Linked DNA regions of Homo sapiens. The protein of the gene in region 3 interacts with the protein of the main gene of each other region in a pairwise test. Each region holds a gene or a part of one and is shown on either strand. Other genes may lie near its edges. The genes, in order: CSRP1, CLDN10 and REEP1.

Evidence for each region.
Region 1: the proteins of REEP1 (region 3) and CSRP1 interact in binary tests that used the Homo sapiens proteins (3 or more experiments, as listed by UniProt).
Region 2: the proteins of REEP1 (region 3) and CLDN10 interact in binary tests that used the Homo sapiens proteins (3 or more experiments, as listed by UniProt).

Annotation. Positions count from the first base shown.
Region 1 is NC_000001.11:201,504,063-201,511,138, forward strand, and holds the start of CSRP1 (cysteine and glycine-rich protein 1), read right to left. Parts: upstream 3,062-7,076; 5' UTR 3,008-3,061; intron 2,778-3,007; exon of another isoform or gene 2,562-2,777; intron 1-2,561. UniProt on the Homo sapiens protein: Could play a role in neuronal development.
Region 2 is NC_000013.11:95,547,803-95,555,754, reverse strand, and holds the start of CLDN10 (claudin-10), read right to left. Parts: upstream 3,036-7,952; 5' UTR 3,002-3,035; coding exon 2,782-3,001; exon of another isoform or gene 1-2,781. UniProt on the Homo sapiens protein: Forms paracellular channels: polymerizes in tight junction strands with cation- and anion-selective channels through the strands, conveying epithelial permeability in a process known as paracellular tight junction permeability.
Region 3 is NC_000002.12:86,215,627-86,222,732, forward strand, and holds part of REEP1 (receptor expression-enhancing protein 1), read right to left. Parts: intron 4,496-7,106; coding exon 4,344-4,495; intron 1,485-4,343; coding exon 1,413-1,484; 3' UTR 1-1,412.

The DNA.
Region 1 (7,076 bases), on a different chromosome or scaffold from region 3:
CTGATGTGTTTCACAAATGGCAGATATTTCCTTAGTGAGTTGATCTGGAAAAAGGAAATGTAGAGGAGCAAAGAAAAATAATAAGGTAGTGACTGAGCATACGTTTTGGAAACAGTCAGCTTATGTTTGAATGGCAGCTCCACAACTGATCAGCTGTGATCCTGAGCAAGTTTCTTACTACCTCTGAGCCTCAGTTTCTCCATTTGTAAAATGGAGAGCATCAGTAGCTACCTCATAAATTGTCCAAGATAACACATGTGAAGTATTTCTCACACTGTCTGGTACACTGCAAGTGCAGATATCTGGTTATCCTTATCTTAAGGAGAGGCCAACTCTAACACTTATCGTTCAGGTTTGTATCTCTTTTGATATTTGACAATATGCCCTGAGTAATGCCAAATGGCTGACTTGGAGGAAAAAGTCTTATTCTCACTAGCACCTCTTTGGATCCCAAAATATTTAACGCATGTGTCTTCATCTAGCAAGCCAACGTTTCACAATAAGCTAGGCTTACATACATATTTAAAACTTTAACAACCTGCCAGAAAAGCCTTCCCAATTTGCTTCCCACACCAGGGATGGACAGTGAATTAAAAACTATGTTGCTAGGCGCAGTGGGTCATGCCTGTAATCCCAGCACTTTGGGAGGCTGAGATGGTGGTGGGGACAGGGAGGGGATCACTTGAGGCCAGGAGTTCGAGACCAGACTGGCCAATATAGTGAGACGCTGTCTCCAAAAAAAAAAAAAACACCAGGCCGGGCGCAGTGGCTCATGCCTGTAATCCCAACACTTTGGGAGGCCGAGGCAGGTGGATCACCTGAGGTCAGGAGTTCAAAAACAGCCTGGCCAACATGGCGAAATGCCGTCTCTACTAAAAATACAAACAATTAGCTGGGCATATTGGCAGACACCTGTAATCCCAGCTACTTGGAAGGCTGAGGCAGGAGAATCGCTTGAACCCAGGAGGCAGAGGTTGCAGTGAGCCAATGTCACGCCATTGCACTCCAGCCTGGGTGACAGAGCAAGACTGCCTCAAAACAAAAACACACAAAAAAGCCCAAAAAAAACCTACGCCTTTTTTCTCTCACCTGCTTGTCAATCTACCCAAGTGGAAAAACTGGCTAGTAACTATTTGCAAGGTTTATGAGTATCCCGTAGGCCAACTCAGCTGAAAGACCATTGCTACCCCACTCATTCATCAAATGTTTGCTGATCACTCAGTCAAGTGTCACTACACTCCCAGGCTGCAACTCTGGCCCAGTCAGGACTCACTAGCTCCAGAGGCAGATGCACATGTGTGCAATTAAAAGAGCAAACACCTGGGCCAGGAAGGCAGGTGCTAAGACAGACCACAGGCAAATAGGCCACAGCACCCCTGTTTTTCCCATTTTATTAGCAGGCCAATTGCAGAGTTGATGGGCCTTCTCTTTAGTTTCTCTCCTGCTTCTTCTTCCCCATACCCTCCATCCTGGGCATCTCAGGCCTTGCAGACAGTTCTCTCCTCCCTCTCCTCTAACCCACACTACACCCTCTGCAGGATAAACTTCCTTCCTCGTCTGACTGCCTCCGCCCCGGATATCCTCTCCAAGGCAAAGAGTCATTCACTGGAAGACCGTGAGCAGGAGGAGGCTGGATTTAGGAAACAATGGGTAAAAGCTGCCCTCCAGCAGCTGAGGGCTGAGGACAGTCTCTCTCAAAAGAGGTAGCCAGAAACCAGCTGGAGAGTCAGGAGGCAGCAGTTGAGTGAGAGCAGTTGAGGGGAGGCTCAGTACCCATCCCCAAATCCCACCTGGGGAAAATCCCCAACATGCAGTCTGAGAGGACAGAGGGAGACAACCAGCACCTCCAGCCTCCTTAGCTTCTGGGAGGAAGGCAAGGGATGAGGGGAGGACAAGAAAGACAGTAACTGAGAGATCACTCCTGTGTTGGAGGTTCTGTGTAATATGCTCCCCAAGTAGCATCCCTGAAAGAAACTGAGACATTGAGAAGTTAAATAGTTTGTCCAAGGAAACCTGCGCGTTAAGTGGCAAATCCAAGAGTCAAAACTCTGCCTTCCAAACAATCCCACCAAGACTCCAAGCCACCTCTTCATGATATACTGATATACTTTCTACCAGGGCCCAGTGGATTTCCTCGGTGCCACTGTGATAGTATCCCAGCGTGGGGAGAGCCTGCCCATTCATTCACTCTCAGGGAGCAGCTGGTGGGTGGCTGGAGCCCAGGGCTCTAGGCAGAGCCTGAGCCCACTATTGCTCCAGCCGATTCCTGGGTCCTGGTTAGTTCACAACAGCACCAGAACCAGAAGCATGCAAAATATTCTCTAGTCTGTACCAGTAGATACAATACCTGCCTCAGAGGGCTGATTGTTAGCTAACACATTGTGATTTGCTTTAAATGTGCTCAATACCAGCCCCTTTATCACTTCCCAGCTTTCAAGGACTGAGGCCACAAAACACTGACTGCAGGCTCTTTCAGGTTTCAGTAACCATCACCACCTAGCACCAAGATTTGGAGTGGAGAGGTTTCCATGCAGTTATTTCACAAGAGGGAAAACTCACACCTGCGCTCAGGGACACAGATGTCCAAGGTCAGGCCCAGATGTTTGCCCCACCCCGCCCGCGGGCATTTTCTCCCCAGCAGGAGGGTGAGGGAGGGGGTGGCACGGATGCCCTCATCTCTCTGCCATACAATGAGCGTCAGTGGCGCGCAGAATCGCCGATTGTTCTGCCCGACTTGCAGGCGGTTGCGGGGAGCCGGGTCGCCCTGGGTCACGCACACGCGGAAGTCAACTGTGTCCAGGAAGCCCAGGAAGGCCCGGGATGGGGACGGACCTAGTGCCTCCAGAAAAGAGCAGCACTGCCCGGGCTAACTGCGGTCACTTCTCACAGTTCCCCGCCTGCGACAGCCCCGGGGCTGCGGCGGGGCTGGCAAGACCGGGAGGCGCTGAGTGCGTGCCCAGGCGCCCCTCCGCGGCGGGCAGAGCCGCGCGACTCAGGGCGCACTCACCTGGCAGCTGGCTCGGCGGCGCAGGGGCGGCAGGCGCTCTCGGAAGTGGCGGCTGGGTGCGCCCGGCCTGCGCGCCGTTTTGTTCCGCTCCGCGGAAGGCGTGTCCCGGGCCACGCCAACCAGTGGGCTTTGCACACTGCACCACTCCAGGGCTGATGTCATGGCGCGAAGCCCGGCGGTGCTGCCCTCCTAGGCCCCGGGAAGGCCGGCCGGCAGGGGCGGGGGCAGGAGTCGCCGACTCTGGGGGTGCTCCGAGCTCGTGCTGCGGTCCCACTGTGCGCCCTGTCGCCGCCACCGCGGAAAACGTCTTGCACGTGCGAGGGGCATTTCAGGAGTTTCCTGTCTGTCAGGTGAGAAGGCGGAGATATGACCTTAGAGGTCAGACCCATGATAAACTTGAGCCCCTAACGAAAGGGTGTCTCGAATTTACTTGTCCTGGTGGCAGAGGGTGAGGGACACATTTTGGGCGCCAGGGTAAGACAGACCCTTCCAGGGCAGGTCTGATTCTGCCCATCCACTCACTAGCTGGGCCCTGGGCCTAGACAGCCCTTCTGGGTTCAGGGTCATCTGTGAACGGCGTGTAATCTACAGGGATGTGAGGGGCTAAAAGGAGATCCGGTAGGACCCGCAGACCTTCAGCAGCACCCGGCATGTAATAGACACTCAATAAATGTAACTCCCCCCTCCAACAGCTCTTGCCCCTCAGTTTTTCCCAGTCTTCCCTGCTACCCTAAGGACAACACCTGGAAAAAGGTGTTCTCCCGCAAAAGCAGCAGTTCTGAAAAGTGGGTGCCTCCATAGAGGCTTTTCTCTGGGGCTCCAACCTTCAGTAGGACAGACACAGGCTCAGGCCACTCAAGCTGCCCCTGGGGCAGTTTCCAGGGGACATTCTGTCCACACCTCCTCACCCAGTCCCCAGCCCTTCCTGAGTGCCCCGTGCAGGCATTTCAGGGAGCAGAGAAGCTCACAGCCTCCAGCTGGTCACCCTACACCCCAGGTGGCCCATAGATGCAGCTGCTATGTCTTCCACCCTGGGCAGGTGTCAAGGGTTCAGGCCCCAACCGGCTTCACTTAAAGCCCTGGTTTGCTGAATCAACTTTTTGCCAGGAATAAAGTTAAGCATCTTATGATCTAGAAAATGAAGTATTTGGCCAGGCACTGTGGCTCACGCCTGTAATCCCAACACTTTGGGAGGCCGAGGCAGGCAGATTGCTTAAACCCAGGAGTTCGAGACCTGGTGAAACCCTGTTTCTACAAAAAAATTAAAAAAATTAGCCAGGCGTGGTGGTGTGTGCCTGTAATCCAAGCTACTCGAGAGGCTGAGGTGGAAGGATCACTTGAACTCAGGAGGCAGAGGTTGCAGTGAGCCAAGATTGCACCACTGCACTCCAGCCTGGGCGACAGAGCAAGAGTGTTTCTCAAAAAAAAAAGTGTTTATCTAGGTTTTTCTTGCTTTCTACCATAAGTAACATCTTTCCTTTGGCCAGGTCCATCCTATAAACAAGGCCCTCCAAGATTAAAATGTCTAGAAGCACACAACCAGTGTTTCTTGCAGATTGGGCCATCTTCATCTGACCCAACCAAGATGAAGGAGGAGAAACCAGAAGAATTTCTGGTCACGGCTGCACTGACTAAGCAATAGTTAAACAGGTCCATTAAACTGCAGAACCACCATCAGTGTCAGAGACCAAGGGCTTCCGCCCAAAGATGGCGATCCCATGGGATTTCCCCCTCTCCTTTCAATTCTCAGTATCTTGGAGAGATGAGCCTCGGAGTTTTGCCCAGGATTTTACAAAAGGGCAAACTCCTACATTACCTTCTTTGGTCTGGGTTTGTCCTCTCTGGAGTCATGGGACTGTTGATAGATTTCCCTGTGAGGACATGCCAACCTGTGCTGTGAAATGGCTTTAGGGTAGATCCAGAAAAAGAAGAGCAGTCACTGCAGTCACACTTGGATTTCTCCCAGATCTTAAAGCACCTTATAAACAGAATGGCTGTACAATGTGTCATCTAAACCAGAATGCTTTGGATAGTAAGTGGTATGTGGTAGTATTCGTAACTACACTAAGGCAACAGGACTATCTCAGGCAGTCCAGGGCAGATGGTCACCCCTCTTTTCCACCCAAAGACTGTCAGGTCACTTGTCTTAGGAGCTGTCTACGCAGAGCTACAGATGAAGCCAAGTAGGACCTGCCTTGTTTGGTGTTTTTCCAGAACCTCTCACCTTCTGACTATATTATTCTCCCAGCCTGCTGCCAGTTACTTGGGCTTGGTCTTAGATAGCACATTTGCAGATAAAGAAGACTTGAGGGATGAGGAAGGGCTTTGGGATTGAGTTGAGTCAAAGGTGATGCTGGGGTTACCCACCATGCAAACAGGAACAAGCCTGATGTTGAAATGACAGAAAAATCAGTAAACATCATCAATACTTGGGACATCCTTAAGGCAGAGATTCTCATTCTGCAGAGGTTCTCATTCTGGCTGACCTCATTTATATAACCATATCTAGACTGGCCCGAGCTGGTCAGCAGCACCCACATCTGCAGAGACAATGCAGTCAGAGCTCATCACCAATAAATTATCTGCTAGGGGTTCTAGAAGGAGGCTTGGCACACTTAGGGGCTTACCTGCTTCTCAGGACTCTCACAAATGTCTAACCTTTTCAGTATCTTTATGTTCTCTCTGTGCACTCTATTTCCCAACACTTCTGGGTTGGTATTTGATGGCTGCTAGGAATGAAGTGGGGCCTGTTACAGGCAGGAAGTAGGGCCCCTGTCCTCCAGCTTCCAACTTTGTCTGCTGCTTCCTCTGGCATCTTTTCTTCTCTTTCCTCCCTCATCAGCATCCTGATGCTACATCTTCTCTCTCCTCTCCTGTGGTGAAACCCTTCTTTTCCGCATTGATCCCAAGTGAAGAGGACCTGAGTGTGAGGCTGAGGAAAGAGTAAGGGAATGTGTCTGGCTTAGCTCTGCTCATCATCCCAGAGAAATTAGAGATCCAGTCTGGGCTGGAGATCTTCTTGTCCATCCTTCCATCCATCTGTCCATCCATCCATTCATTCATTCACCCATCCATCCATTTGTTCATCCATCTGTCTCTCCATCCATCCATCCCTCCCTCCATCCATCCATCCATCCATCCGTCCATCCACCTGTTCATCCATGTATCCATCCAACCATTCACTCAGAAGACATTTATTGGGGCCCCACTCTGTGCTGGTCTCTAGGTTCTGGGAATACAAGGAAGCCTATAATTTGGATCCTGACCTCAAGAAGTTTACTCATCTAATGGTCTAAAAAAAGAAAAAAAAAATCCAGCCCTAAACTTGCAGTTTGAGTCTCAGCTCTGTCATCTATGATTTAAAATACTAATGATGGCTGGCGCAGTGGCTCATGCCTTAATCCCAGCACTTTGGGAGGCCAAGGCCAGCAGATCACTTGAGGTCAGGAGTTCAAGACCAGCCTGGTCAACATGGTGAAACCCCATTTCTACTAAAAATAGAAAAATTAGCCGGGTATGGTGGCATGTGCCTGTAATCCCAACTACTGTGGAAGCTGAGACAAGAGAATCGCTTGAACCTGGGAGGTGGAGGTTGCAGTGAGGCGAGATCCAACCACTGCACTCCAGCCTGGGTGACAGAGTGAAACTGTGTCTCAAAAAAACAAAAAACAAATAAAATACTGTTGATAATGAGGAATAATTATAATTATTAAGCATTTACTACCTGTCAGGTACTTTACACAATTGTCCCCTTTAATCTTCGCAGTAGCTGTATGAAGTAAGGACTATTTTTACCCCCTGCTTTGCATGTGAGGAGACCAGGGCTTACAGCAGTAGCTAACTTAGTAGCTTTGTGACCATGGCCTAGGCCTCAGTTTTCCTCATGTGTGAAATGGGAGGTTGGACTAACTCAGTATTCTCCAAAATTTCCACTGAGGTACCTCTGACAGCAAAGAAGTAAATGTAAGGAACCCACAGTGTTGTCAGAATCAATCCACTCCCAGTCCTTGAAGTCTTGGGGTTTATTGCAAAAATTTATTTGAATTTTGCATTCTCCTTGGCACATAAC
Region 2 (7,952 bases), on a different chromosome or scaffold from region 3:
CCTCCACAGGAAAACACAGTTGCATGATTTAACCCTCCAAGATGTTATTCTGAGAGATACAGAAAAGTAAGTTTGTTTTGCGGTAAGAAATGCCATCTTAAGCCACAGAAGGAAAGTCATCAAAAAAACAGGCTGATAAATATGATTCTATTACAAATTTCAAAGTCCTGTGTGAGAAAAGGCATCATAAATTTAAAAGATGAACAATGGTGTGAGATTGCAACCTACATAACAAATCAAGGACTGACAAATCATCGAAACCACAAAGAAACAACAGAACCATGGGCCTAAGATATGGATGCCAATTCACAAAAGAGAAAAAAAAACGGTCAGTGAGTTTTGACCATTTTTATAACCAGTGATTTTGACCACGGCAATAAGGGAAATGCCAACTAAAATGATAAGATGGCTGGGCGCGGTGGCGCACACCTGTAATCCCGGCACTTTGGGAGGCCGAGGAGGGTGGATGACCTGAGTTCAGGAGTTCGCGATCAGCCTAACATGGTGAAACCCTGTCTCTACTAAATGCAAAAAAAATTAGCCGGGCATGGTGGCACATGCCTGTAATCCCAGCTACTTGGGAGGCTGAGACAGGAGAATCACTTGTACCTGGGAGGCGGAGGTTGCAGTCGGCTGAGATTGTGCCACTGCACTCCAGCCTAGGCAACAAGAGCAAAACTCCGTCTCAAAAAAAAAAAAAAAAAAAACTGGATTAACACAGAGTGGTGAGAATGTGGAGAAGCAGGTATTCTCATACACTGTCAGTGGAAAGTAATTTGACAGTATGAACTGAATATTAAAATGCACGTGTATTCTACTGCTCTTACGATACCATTTCTCAGTGGAATGGAGTCTACAGAAATACACACACATACAAAGAGGTGAATATAAGATTTTCAGTAAAGCACCACCAACAAAGAAAAGCTGGAAAAGGTCCAATGTCCACAATGGATCTATGGTTAACTAAGCCATTTTATGCAGTCTAATGAATATACCATGCAGCAGTTACACAGAGTCAAGTCACTTCTATTAAGTACTGACTTGGAAAAATACATTGATTTTAAAGTGTTGTACAACAGTAGGTAGTGTCATGCCATTTATGTTTTTAAAAGTCATTTTTTAGTCACATGAGCACACAGGAAGGCCATTTTGCAAGCTGGATGGCATAAAAATGTCACTCCTCTCTGTTCTCCTCCCAGCTAACCAGGACAACTATTCCTACTTCCTCTTCACTCCCGGCCCGATCTGCCCCCAAACAGGTATGGTACCACCTCCACTCTCACTGCAGACATGTAGGAGAAAACTTTATTATTCTGCACTTAATAATATTCATAGAGCATTCATTTCCTTCTCTCCCTTGTCCCCCAACTGTCCTACAGAAGGAAGCGTACCTATCTGGCACACTATCTCAGAGAACAATAGAGTTACAACAGAAGAGTGTTCAGAGGACAGTAACACATTGCTGACTATAAATCACAGGAACAAGAGAATGCCTGTTCATCTACCTGGATGCGTGCTCTACAAACCACAGGAAATTCAACGGTAATGCTGGGGAATAAACACTGTTCCGGCTGCTTATTTTACCGAACAGGACACGGACCCGGGCGCCACCCTTCTAAAACTAGATGCGTATTCCTTATACGGAGGTTCCATCAAATACCACGTTGAGCAACAGTTTGCTCTTCGTGGCAAACCCCATCTTAGAGGAATCAACTATTTTCTTTCATTTACCCAGCTATGTAAACAAAACCTGCAAGTGCGGTAATAAAAGAAAAAAACACCTCAAATCTAGAAATATGTAATGTAAATAACTCCTCTTAAGTTTCTGCCAGGATTCGTTTGCTGTAAAATCCTGGAAGCAACGGGCCTAGAACTTGAGCAATCAATGGGACCGGGCTGACATCGGCTGTTGTCTTGAAACTCAACAGAGCCAGAGTTCTGTGTGAATATCCACCAGCTGCTACCAGCATAAGGCCTGACTAACCAGAGCAACGCAGGTGAACCTCCACAAAGGAACAACCCAGGACAGCAGCAGGCACCGGGGACTCGGATGCAGAACTGGTCAGCTCCCGGCGCCACGCTCTCACGGCCCAAGATTCCCTACCCTCTGCGGACTCATCGCGGCACCGCAAGGGCTATTATTTTCCTAAAACTCGGAGGAAGTGTTTGTAGTGTTGCCTAGGCAGACAAGTTTGTAGAAGCTCTTTAAAGGGAAACAATAACAACAACAAATTCTGCAATATGTTTTCCCGCTTCCAACCTCTCAACCCCCACCCCCGCCTACTTTTAAAAGAACCAACGAAATGGCTCAAGGGAGGTCAGGACAAACGGATTTGGCTTGCAATGACACCATTTTTATCAGAACCCAGCCTTCGGGGAACGTAGGGGAGGGAGGTGGAGGAGACAAGCCCCTGCAGCATGAACTCTGGGTCCCAGCGGTCCCCAAGATATGGGGGGTGGGGGAGGGCAGCCGCTTCCTTGACTCTCAGGACCGCAAAGCTTCCCCATCCCCCGACGCCTGGGAGTCACCAACCCGGGCCTGTCTGCGTGTCCCCCCTCCCGGGGTCCCAGGCTCGAACAGGCGCCCCGCGAGACAGCCATCAGGAGAGGGCGGGCACCAGGAGCGTCCCTGGCTCCCTAAGGCCCTGTTGGGAGAGACGGGTCGGGCCTCAGAGGAGTCCAGTCTAGGGGTCCCGCTGGGGGTATTGGGGGCGAGAGGGCGCCTAGCGGGCTGGCCATCAAGGAAGGAGGGCTGAGGGCGGGGGCCGCGGGGATGCAGACCGTCCAGCGCCAGCATGGAGGGGAAGTCCTTGCAGTTGGAGACGCCCGTGGAGTCGGTAACGCACGCCTTCCACAGGTTGGCCCAATAGGTGGCGGTTGTGATGACCGTGCCGTCGATGGTAGACACCTTCCAGTAGTCGGTGGGCAGCGTGGAGGACACCAGTACCCAGCCTGAGATGGAGACCATGAAGGCGATGATCTCCGAAGCCGTGCTAGCCATGCCGCCGGCTGCAGCCGCGCTCGCTCTCCGGCTCCCACTCTGCGCCGCGACCCCCGCACTCCCAACCCCGGGGCTCCGCCTCCCGCCTCCGCCTCCGCCCACCGTCCCCGCCCACCACCCCGCCCAGCGGACCCGGCGCCAGGGGGCGCACGCGACCCCTCACACCCATGCCCTGTCCCTTGAGGGGCCTCAGAGGGCTCGCGGTCGCCCCCCGGGTTCTCCATCTGCAGCTGGCCCGCGCCCGCGTGCGGGAGGAAGGCCGGCCTGCGCTCCCCTGAGCCAAAGGGCCGCGGAGAAGGGCTCGCTTGTTGGAGCGGCTCAGGTTCAGACTGGCAACCGGGTGTGGACAACCTGCTGCGCCCCCACCTCACCACCCCCACCCAGCCCTACCCAAGGCAAATAGCTTGGCTTCCTGACTACCTTGTAGAAGCAGAGCAGGAAAAGCCTTTTGCATGCCCTGAAAGGACACGGTTTGGTAACTCAGCCCTCGGTTTGCTGAACTCTAAAGGTTTGCGTGCCACGCTTGTTTGGGTGACTCTGTTTGACTTGTCAAGGAGGGATCATTGCAGATTCTGGGCTGGAAACCGGCCTTGCCCTCAAAACTCTGCAGTTCTTTTTGGCCTGGTGCTATGCGGAAAGTCATGGCAAAACGGTGCGTGGCACAGGCCTAAAGTCAAGATAGCAGCAGATGGGGCATCCTGACGATCTTGATCTTGCTGGTGTACTCATACTAATGCACTACGCAGAGGGCATTTGTTCAACACATTTTCCCTGTAGGTCCCTTCCAGCTTCCAGGTCTAGAGGCTATTCTATGAAAGGATGCTGTTATCCCAGTCAAAACTGCTATCTTGTCTTTTATTTTTTTTTAAACCACCTCCATCTCTCACGCCTAATTGAAATATAAACTCATTCATTCCTTCATCCCTTCATTGCTGTCTCAAGGTAAACATAAAGATCAAGGTGTACTTCTGGCTCCTGAGGCCACAAATCTGGGCATAAATGAGAGAACAAGGACACGGGTTATTATTTGTCCACTTAAAGGTTCTTGCAGTTTTGTTATGAGCTTCCAGGTTTCACTTGTTGCCAAAAGTAAGGAAAGGTCTAAAACCTATCAATCAGTCTGCTGTGATAAATCTCGTGCTAACCCTCTGTGTCACTATCTTTAGGCAGAAACACTCTGGTTCAATGTGAAGAATTTCTTAATTTCCCTTTGTCACTTTTTTTTTTTAACCAAATGGGTGCCCAGTGAAATTAGAGGCGACAAGGTGACTGGAGAAGAGAGGAAGCTGGACATAGAATCATCAAAACTTAGATTGGAAGAATCACTGTAGACCAGCAGGACACGCTCCACACTCAAAACAATGTTCCTGTCTATTTCTAGAGATAATGTTTAGCCCATGCTCCACCCTTCAGGACCAGCAGTTCAGTGCATGGCAACGTATCTATTCTGTTTTTCTTCATGTTGTTTTGACAGCCCTTTAAAAAAGCTTTTCTTCCTATTGAGCCCCAAATCTGTCTCTCTTCAATGTCTACCCGAATGTTGTAATCTGTGCTCTGAGAACACGAAGTAAGTCCTACTCTTGTTGCAGCCGTGCAGCGGCTGGCAGGTAGTGGGCTTCTCTGTGCTTAATGGTCCCATGGCTTTCGTGAATGGGTACAAGGGTGACAATGCAGACATGGTTACCCTACTGTTCTGCTCTGAACCCCAGCTTGTCCTGATGTATCATGTTAGGTTCACTGGTAAACTAAACTTAAAAACTGAGTTTAAGAAGTATCTCCCTGGCTGGGCGCAGTGGCTCACACCTGTAATCCCAGCACTTTGGGAGGCCGAGGCGGGCGGATCATGAAGTCAGGAGATCGAGACTATCCTGGCTAACACGGTGAAATCCCGTCTCTACTAAAAATACAAAAAAAAAAAAAAAAAAAAAAAAAAGTATCTTCCTAACCTCTTCCTTCTCATTCTCCTTGCTATGCAAATCAGTCACCTTTGAGCAATGACTACAAAGCATCCTCTATTCTTTTGTATGGCTTGCCTTTTTAAAGTGTTTTATCATCTGTTTTTTTGCCCTCCAGCATATTTCCACTATTATTTCTATGCCATATTCCTTCCTGAATAATCTGCCTATTTCTGATCCAATTACTATTTGAAAAACACAAAACCCACTAACCATAACATTTCTTACTGATTTTTCTAAAATTACAAATTACACAAATTTAATACTTTATTTCCTGGCCTTGTTCGATAGTCCCTTTGTTTACCGTGGCTCGCCTATGGTAGATACTCACTAAATTGATTATTTCTTTGTTTTTACTAGACAAAACCCTGACTTACTTTTGCCACAAAACAAGTGTAGTGCTGTGACCTTTAAGACTCAAGCACTTCCTAATTTATCACCTAGTTGCTATGAAGTCCACTGTTTGGATCCAAAGGCACATTGTTTGTTTTAAAGAAAGAACTTTGAAGAATGGTTTGGTGTTTTAAACCAGTCTGCAAAGTTTATTTAACACATAATGTAGCTCTACCCATTATACTTCAAAAATCCATAAGCCCAGATTACCGTTGCAACATAGCATCCGGAAGAAACAAATTCTGAATTCCTGCTTGGAACACTCTTCTCTCTGCCGCATCGCCACACCAGTGAAGCCAGAATCTCTGGGGGTGGCCTTGGTAGCAGTATTTCCAAAACTTCTAATGTGGACTCAGGCTGAGAACCACAGCTCTGACCAGTTGAGCTCTGTGTATGTGTGTATAAACAGTTAATTTAGCATAACGGATGGTGGTATGCATCACAGGAAGAAAGAATATTAAACTCATTGTTGAATACTTTGAAAAAAGAAATATTCTATTACTGTAGAGATTGCAACACACAATTTCAACTTAAAAGGGATGGGAAACACCACAAACAATCCATAAATTAAAACTTAAATGGCAGCATTATTAGTTCCTTTGGCAGCTAAAACAGACTAGGGTCGTCATGCCTGTGGACTTGGTTAATTTTCCTTTCTCCTTTCTATGAGGTTGGACAACCCTAAACTCTTTTCTTTATCTTCCCTAGGATGTACTACATAGTTACTGTGGAAAGCTGTATGTTGGAGGCCATGAGTTCCTGACCAAAGAATGAAAAATGTTAACTTTCTTTAATACCTAGATAATATTATGTAATGAATCAAACATTTTTATTTTAGAATGTCTTATATCTTATGCTTCTCAAGCTAGTTTTGTCAGGAGAATTCTAAAGATATTATGGAGTAGCATATAATCTAAAAAAAGAATGTCCAGAAAATAAAAATGGACCAAATAGAGATTTTTGAAAAGAAGTAATGGATAAATGTCTTGTTTTGCTTTAAGATTATACAGTTCCCAAATAACCTTTGCAGTTAATCTGCAAGCCGATTTACAGAGTACTTTCGACTGATAAATGCTTCCTTATTTTCTTTAGGATTCAGTTCACTGAAATTTCATAAGAGACTATTCTTAATTTAAATATAAAAGTGAATACATCAAAAAAGGTTGCCTCCTCTAAATTATTCAAAGTAACATCTTAGTTAACAATAGTTTAGTCTTTACAAAAAGCTATAGATCTTTTCCAATATGAAAACTACTAACTGATCTATAAATTTGACCCGAAGACATACAATGCCCTCAAACATATTCTGAGCCTTTCTACTTTTGAGGTCTAAGTCACTGGAATTAGCATTGAAAATTATTTCTTTGGCTTATTATGGTTATTAAAGAGAAATAGAGGATCCCCCCCACCCTGGGGTTGTTCAATAGGAGTGAAAACCAGTTTAGCCAACTAAACAGGAGATTTGCAGAAATTCCTTACTTGAGATTCAGTACACCTACCAAGCAACGCAGGTGTGCCTTTCAATAGCTCAAGGATTTTCTAAGCATCAGATTTGGTTTCAGTATACATTAGCTCCTTCCTAGATTCCAGTGAGGTGGCGTGCTGCTAATCAGGTGGGAAGAAACTGAATTCCTGATGATACGGTATTAACTAAAAAAAACAACTGCCCAGGAGCCAAGTATTGTTACATCACATTAAAGAAGACATTAATGCCGGTACCAAGATATTAAAAGAGCATATCTGTGTTCTTTTTCCTTCCATTTTCCCTAACATTTCATTTATCTTAATGCTTATGCAAATCCAATGATATTTGTAATCTACTTAGCATGAAAGCTACAGAGTGATAGGAATAGTTACAGAATGAACAGTTATTCTCACCATTGCATCACCATTCATATATAAATATATATCTATAATTTTTTTTGCAAATTATAACTATAAAAACAGTTGCCTTATTCTGTCATTTGGCAACCTGTGAAGTTGTACTCCATCAGAATATTTCTATGGGCCTATTACAAGTCAGTGCCATATACCTTGTGGATTTGTTTTTCATGCATTCATTTGAAACACACTCATTCCCAATTCTAAATTATCTTAGTAGACTCCTCTTGAGCCCCTGAAGGGGAGGGGTAAGGTTTGGGCCCCAGCAGGAATACCCTTCGAGCCTGGAATTACTCTCACTCTGTGATGCTAGAACATTCCAGGGCTTGTAGACAGGTTGGGTACATTTTGTTTGTCCATAAGCACTTGATGAATATCAATATAACCTCCCACCCAGGTCGGGGCAGTATGTTAATTTATATGTTTTGGGCAAGTGATTTTATGTCTCTGAGTTACAGCTCCCTCATTTGTAAAACAGAGGAGTTATTCTGGATATCTTCCGAGACCACTTTCAACTCCAAAAACCCCTGAGTCTAGGATTCCTAATGAACTTAGTCATTCACAGATAACATCAAGGAGAGGAGAGTAGCAGTTTTCCTTTGGTGTCTTTACTGTTTTATTCCCACTTTCTGCCTCCCTCCTTTGTTAAATTTAAAGGTGGCGTCTGTATAGATGTGTATGTGAGAGGCAGTGCATGGAGAAAATCTAAAATCTCTACATGT
Region 3 (7,106 bases):
ATATTTCGGCTCAGCTCTCAGTGGGGAGAGCAGCTACCTCGGACCACAATGCCATTTAAACCAGATTCTTTTCAAATAAAATTCTCAATCTAAGTGGAAAGCCCCCTCAGAGAATGCCTTATTCCCCTACTAAGCAATCCAGGCTTGTATAAAACGTCTGATAAGGCCTGTAGTGCCCATTGAGTATGAGTCTGCTGTTTACATTCTGCACAGGCCAGGAGGGGAACAGAAGGTGTGAGCCACAGGTGCTCCTGGGTCTGACCAGCAAGTCTAACCCATGAAGATCTCGAGCTCCAAAACCATTCTAGAGCCCACCATTTTGATTGTTACACATGTGTTTCAGATGTATGTTATGGCATATCTGAAACAGCAGAGTTCTCAGTTTTTTGTGTGTTTGTTTTTGCTAAGCTAAACAAGTTTTGCTAGAGTTCGCTAAAACAAGGTGCTCAGAGTGTAAGCTCCTCTGTCAGGAAATCGGCAGCACTGGTCACGATAAAGGAGAAATCGTCCTTTGTCAAGCACAGAATTACTCCTTCCAGCAGCTCTACATGTTCCCATCCTCAAGAAATTGCACCAAGAGTGAGCTACCTGCCTATCCCTGGAAAAGATTCAGAAGCTCCTAATCCAGAATCCAGGGAGGAGATGAGCTTCCTGTGACTCTTCTCTTTTACTGGGATGTTCCCCTGACCTCTCATCACACTTTACTGTGTTGTGAAATATTGTTTCTCTTAGTTTGTAACTTGTCTGGTCTTTTGACTAAACAACTATCTAAAGAATATAGACCACACTCCTGCAGGGAAAGGGATGTCTTACTGGAGTTGTATTTGGAAGCTTTATAAGCACATCTGAGACGTTCTCTAGAATCAAAATATTTGTCTATATTTGTTTTTGCAGTTTTCTTACATATCAGAACCTCTGGCAGCCCTTGCAAGTCCATTATATTAAAAGCCAAAAGCCATAAATATGTACATCATAGTTCAAAGTATAAGTACCAAGAACAAAGAAAGTTGTAAAAAATGCTGTGTTTGCATTTACAGGACTAAAAACTAAGTATGCAACAGATAAATTACAAATGTACATCTCAGCAGCATAGGGGTGATTCTCTTATCTTTCTAAAAAACACACTGCTGTCTATAATGACAATCCAATTGTGGAAAATTACCAACCTCAGAAGACTTAAAGGTCACCACCCCCGCCCCTACTACCTTTCCCTTTAGCCTCTCCCCAGCAAAATAAAGAAAAGGGGGAAAAAAATAAATCCTTAAAAGTGGAAGGGGAGAGAGAAAAGGCCATGTTTGTGAGGCTGCACACTCAAAGCACACCCAGCTTGCGGATTTCTATGTTATTAGTGAATAGCTCTTTAAGGCAGAGAAGAAACATTCTGTGGATCCGGTGCTGTTGGCTCATCTCACTCACGTGGTTTCGGTGGCCGAGGATGAGGTACTTTTCTTCCTGAAGCGAGATCGAAGGATTCTAGGCGGTGCCTGGTAGAGAAAACAGAAAGGTGTCCCTCAGTTTGGTGTAAATGTGGGATCTTTTGAGGTCAGCACCTGGAAGGCATTGTGTTGAGACTTCCAGCTCCTTTGGCCAAATGCAGCTGGCTAGGGCTGGGGTCTCCCTGAATCTCCGCAACAGGAAGCAATCATCAGAGTCCCATCCCACATATCGCATGAAGCTGAGCCCTTTGAGAGGCTGATGCCTCCCTCTTAAATTATGCTCCTCAATCTCCCAAGGGAACGGTTGTGCAGAATGACACATCTTTCTTGTTTCTGCCTGAGGAGCAAAATTATCTTAAATGATTCAGCAGAAAGAGACACCTCCGCATGCTTCCTTTGCTTTTGTTATTTCCTTTGGGAACCAGCCTAATGTGTTTTGGTACATGCCTCAAATTTCCATCATCAAATTTCCAGTCCCCTTTCTGGATGAGAAACCTCTTAATGTACAGCACACCACACCACAAAGGCAAACACCACCTTGAAGTACAGGTTGAATATCCCTTATCCGGAAATGCCTGGAGTCAGAAGTGTTTGGGATTTCAGATTTTTTTTTTTTTTTTTTCAGATTTTGGGATGTTTGCATATACATTCCAATTGAGCACCCCAATCTGAAAATCTGAGATTCAAAATGCTCCTATGAGCATGACCTTTGTGCGTCTTGTCCACACTCAAAGAATTTCAGATTTTTCGATTAGGGATGCTCAACTTATATGAAGGGCTCCACCTCATCTCTCCCACAAATGACTCTCAAGAGACCCCTCCTTCCATGGGATACACAGATCACAGGAGGAGTTCCTATTTCAATGAAAGTGAAGGGAACATTTTCTGGCACAGCACTTGAGGGGGTTCACACAACTGGCCCCAACCTACCCTTGGCCCCCGTGTCTGTCCACTTCTCTGTATACACAGAGAACTTCTTTCTCTACACTGTGCCCATTCATGCCTCTATTCCTTCTGACTGGAAGCCCTTCCCTCCCTCCTCTGTCTTGCATATTTCTAGGCCTCTTGAGGACCCAGCTCAAAAGTCACTTCTGCAAAGGTTTCCCGGAGCCCCTCCTGCCACTGCCCAGCCATGCACAACCAGGCATCGTCACCTCCTTTGTTCTCTCATGTTTTGTACATGTCCCCCAGCAGAGGACTTTGCACCCAGTGGGAAGGGAGTGTGTGGGGGCCCTGCTCACTCTCTCCCCACCAGACTGGGGACTTCCTGAGGGCAGGCCCATGTCGCATTCACCACCATTTCCTGGTAAGTGGCTCAGTGCTGGGCAGGCACATACAAGGCAGGAAGTGAATGAGCCAGAAAACAAGACTCAGGCCCTCTCATAGAGTCCTCATGCTACAGCCTTACCACTAGGAAATGCTTACCAGCCACCTCTGGACAGACACTGAAAACGGAAACAACGGAACCCACCTTTATAGTAATCTGCCTCTTGGCAGGCTGGTGAACTGTAAACAGTAAAGCAGTTTGTGCAGCTTTAATAAACAAAAGCAAAACAGCACAAACCCTTGGGCCTTAGAATTCTTTAGGCTGGGCTCCTCTCCCCATCAGGAGGCTGCCCAGGCCAGATTGCCCAGGCCAGACTCCTCCAGCAGTGTCCAAGCCCAGAACATCCTTTCCCAAACCCTCTAACTTTAAAAGGGATGCATGTGTGCCTCACCTTGCAAAGGAACCTGATGAACTGCACATGGAGGTGGTCATAATTACAGTCCTAACAAATAAGAATGCTAGGCTGCTCAGTGTCTGCAGAAGGGAACATTTCAAGGCATCTCCCCATATAAGTCTCACAAGGGTCTGTACGGAGACTTCCTATTTGCTTCAGATGGCCTCTCAGGCCGTGATACTCAGCAGATGGGGAATAGGAGAGGAGACCTTAGGAAGCAGAGAGAAAGACTGGGGTCCCTGCACCTGTGCTCATGACTGGTGACTCCCTACCCACATCACAGAGCAAGGCCCAGGAGGCTCCAGGCTCAGCCCTCCTGCTGCCAGAACTCCATCCACATCCTACAACTGAAAATAGCATATATGTCAAGGGTATTGGTTTTGGTAACCCTAAAGGGCTATACCCCTTCACTAACATTTCATGAATAGCTACTTTATACCAGGCACTATATGCTGTGTCTTGGAGATACAGCGATGAACAAGCCTTGTTCTTATTTATAAAAACTTTTCAAATAACACATTCTGAGTTTTCTTCCCCCAAAACAGTCAATTTGGGTTGTTTTTCACTTGTACGTCAACTTAGAGTGGTAGTTGTTAATACCTGGAAAAACCAAAACAAAACAATAAAGACCTAGATACTTTACCACTCTCCTATTTGTTTTTCTTTTCTTTTTTTTTTTTTTTTTGAGAAGGAGTCTCGCTGTGTCATCCCGGCTGGAGTGCAGCAGTGCAGTCTCACTGCAACCTCCTCCTCCTGGGTTCAAGCGAGTCTCCTGCCTCAGTTTCCCAAGCAGCTGGGACTACAGGTGCGCGCCACTACACCCGGCTAATTTTTGTATTTTCAGTAGATAAGGGGTTTTGCCATGTTGGCCAGGCTGGTCTCGAACTCCTGACCTCAGGTGATCCACCTGCCTCGGCCTCCCAAAGTGCTGGGATTACAGGCATAAGCCACTGCACCCGGCTCACGCTCCTATTTCTAAATGAAATTAATAGGATTTCCTCTCCTTGGCAAGTAGCTGGATGCTATCCAGTGACTGGTTCTGCTTGTTTGATGGAAGGAGATCTTTCCACCCCAGGTATTGAGGAGATGTTGGTGCCCCAAGAGATGCTGCTCCCAGGACCCCCAATCTCCAGGGCATAGCCTTTGGACAAACACACTCCAACCCACAGCCCCAGACACTGTGTACCTCCAGGGGCAATTCCATCCTTCGAGGTGCTTTATACTTGTACATGAAATCCAGCAGGTCTTCCTCCTCGTCGTCAGAAAACGCCAATGGGTTTTGGACCTGGTGGGGCTCCCATGCCTTCATACCACCCTCATTCACATCTCCCTCAACCACTTAATGTCCATTTACAATCTACACAGATGAGACAAGGTATAGCAAGGAAGCATCAGTGCAGGGAGCAGGGAAGGGCAAGGTTAGGCACACAGCACAGCAAACCAGGCCTGTGAGGACAGCTGAGGCCCCTCGGTCTGAGGAAGCACTGATGTTTTGGGGGCCTCCTTACAGGGGATCTGGGATTGTGAAAGTGCAGTTGTGTGAATCTCCAGGCACTGTGCACAGAAACAACCACAGACTCAGAATCTACTGAATTCTGAGTAATTCAGTAGATTTACTAAGGGGGCATCACTTCCCTGGGTGAAGAAAGAAGCGGCTTTAACTGAGACACATCAATCCCTGCAGCTCAGTCCTGTGATCCCACACCAGGTGAATGCTCAGGGAAAGAATCTCCTCTAGAGAGGATGGCAGCAGTGATGTGGGGTGGGGTGGGAGAGCAGTTTCTATGTTGTACATACAAGCCATGTTGACATTGTATATTATACTTGCATATTCAATTCCAAGCATCCTGTAAGAGACAGGATATAAAATGCCAGGAGGCCTTAAGTGATAACCTTAAACAAAGCTATATAGTTTTTTTGTTTGTTTTTTTTTTTGCGAAGGCCCAGTCCTAGAGAAGCAGAGAAACCTAAGGAAGGAGAATCTGACAGATGCCTCTGCCAAAAAAAATGATAGCAAGATTCCTGTTTCAGTCTGCCTTGAATACATCTGCGGGAAAAGCTTCAGAATTAATTCATCTCATTGAACGCACAGTATTTTTTAAATGTTAAATGCTAATACATATTCCATGTCATCTGCTAGGCGGTTCTTAGTTGAGATGTAAAATATCTTCTGCCCCTACCCAGCTTATCTGGTATCACACACACACATTTTTCTATGCTGCATCTATTGTTTTTACCTAGAATCACAGAATGCAAGACTAAGGGGTTCTCAAGTCATCTGGTCCAATCACCGTGAGGCCTCCAGATAGAAACCACAGCTCTTCTTGAGACACCCTGCTCCTAAGAACATATTCAGCCACCGAATGTGCTCTCTCTCCATCAACAGTGGACTTGCTAGACTATACCACCACCAGGCGTGGAGTAAAAAAACAGACAACTGAACCCTAATCTTGGGCAGCTTTACCAGTTACCACTGCTGTGCTCCCCAACAGCCAGCAGGAAGCAGCACAACATGCAAAGCTGAATTTTAGGCTGGGGTGTGATTGGTTCAGACTGGGCCTTAGTAAGTAAAGTCCTGAGATCACTGATGTTCCTTTGATTTTTAAATTACTATTATTATTTTATTTCTACTCTGCACTTCCCTCAGCTTATTTACTCTGGGCTTAGTTTGTCCTCTGCTCCCTTCCTCTGTCCTAATCAGCTGCATCCTGTTGAGCACAAAGACCAGTGACTCCAGGGAGCCCTCGCTGAATACTCTGACCCTCCCTGGCCTCCCCACTCTGAGACCCGACAGTGCTTGGAGGCTGTGCCACACAGCTTGTGTTGGGTGCCCTGGTCCTCATGTCAGTCTCATTGCCTCAGCCAACAGAAGGCATCCTGAGACTGGGGGGCCATGGCTGATCCTCCCTCAGTCTCTCTGAGCACCTGACCCAGGGCTGGGCACACAGTGGCCACTCATCAACTAAACTAAATAGAATCCTGAAGTCATCTCAGAGAGCTCAGCTCTAGTCCCAAGTCAGAGCTTGACACCCCCATTAACCAAACCAGGAAATTCCTTCTGGACACAGATACCTCCTGCCTGGCAGGAGGGAAAAAAGACCAAAAGCCCTCAGACCAAGGCAAAAACTGCAGAAGCAGCCTGGCCAGCTCCACCCCAGCAGCCAACTCCATGACATGGAAGTGGGGTGGGTACCGGTTCGAGACTGTGCCTCTGCATATGCTGTACCCTCCACATCCAGGTCCAGGGCTTTCCCTGTACTGATGGTTGTGGGTGTCAGAAGGTGGCCCAAAGTCACCGTGAGATCCTCAGGCATCTAACAACCCAGGCTAGTTATCCAGTCTGGATTCACTGAGGCTGAGCAATGAACTCACACTTACCAAAATCACCATCATCACTATAATCTCAGGACTGAAACCAAAATGGCTTTGTGCATGTTCTCCACTGCAAGGATTGCAGGGTAGAAAAGAAATGACCCTCCAGCCCAGTAGGAGTGATGGTTCAAGGACAACCCAGATATCCAAGCAGGAATAGAAACAAGTGCTCAGCTCAGCAGAGGCTGGGAGCAAAAGAGGCCAGTGTGGGCAGTGAGGGAGCCAGAATAGCCTCAGGAAGAAGCTACAGAGAGAACCTCCTAAGAAGATAAGACATCTCCTAGTCACTGTGTCCGCTGAGCATTTCTGCCAAGAGTGTTGTCTATAATATTTGCCTTACTCTCAGAACCAGTGAGAATAAACATTCTAAATAAGACAAGCTTCCACGCCTCTAGCTGGCTGTTGCACAGTGGACTGAATCTCTTAATAATTGTATTTCCCTCTTTGCAGTGGTTTCAAGGAAGCCAGGTGTCTCAACAGTCTACACCTTGATGGTATGCATTTAAAATGTCCTTCTCCCCACTGATTCCATCTTACTTGCCCACTCCCTTCTCCCCATGCTTCAATTTTCTTACTT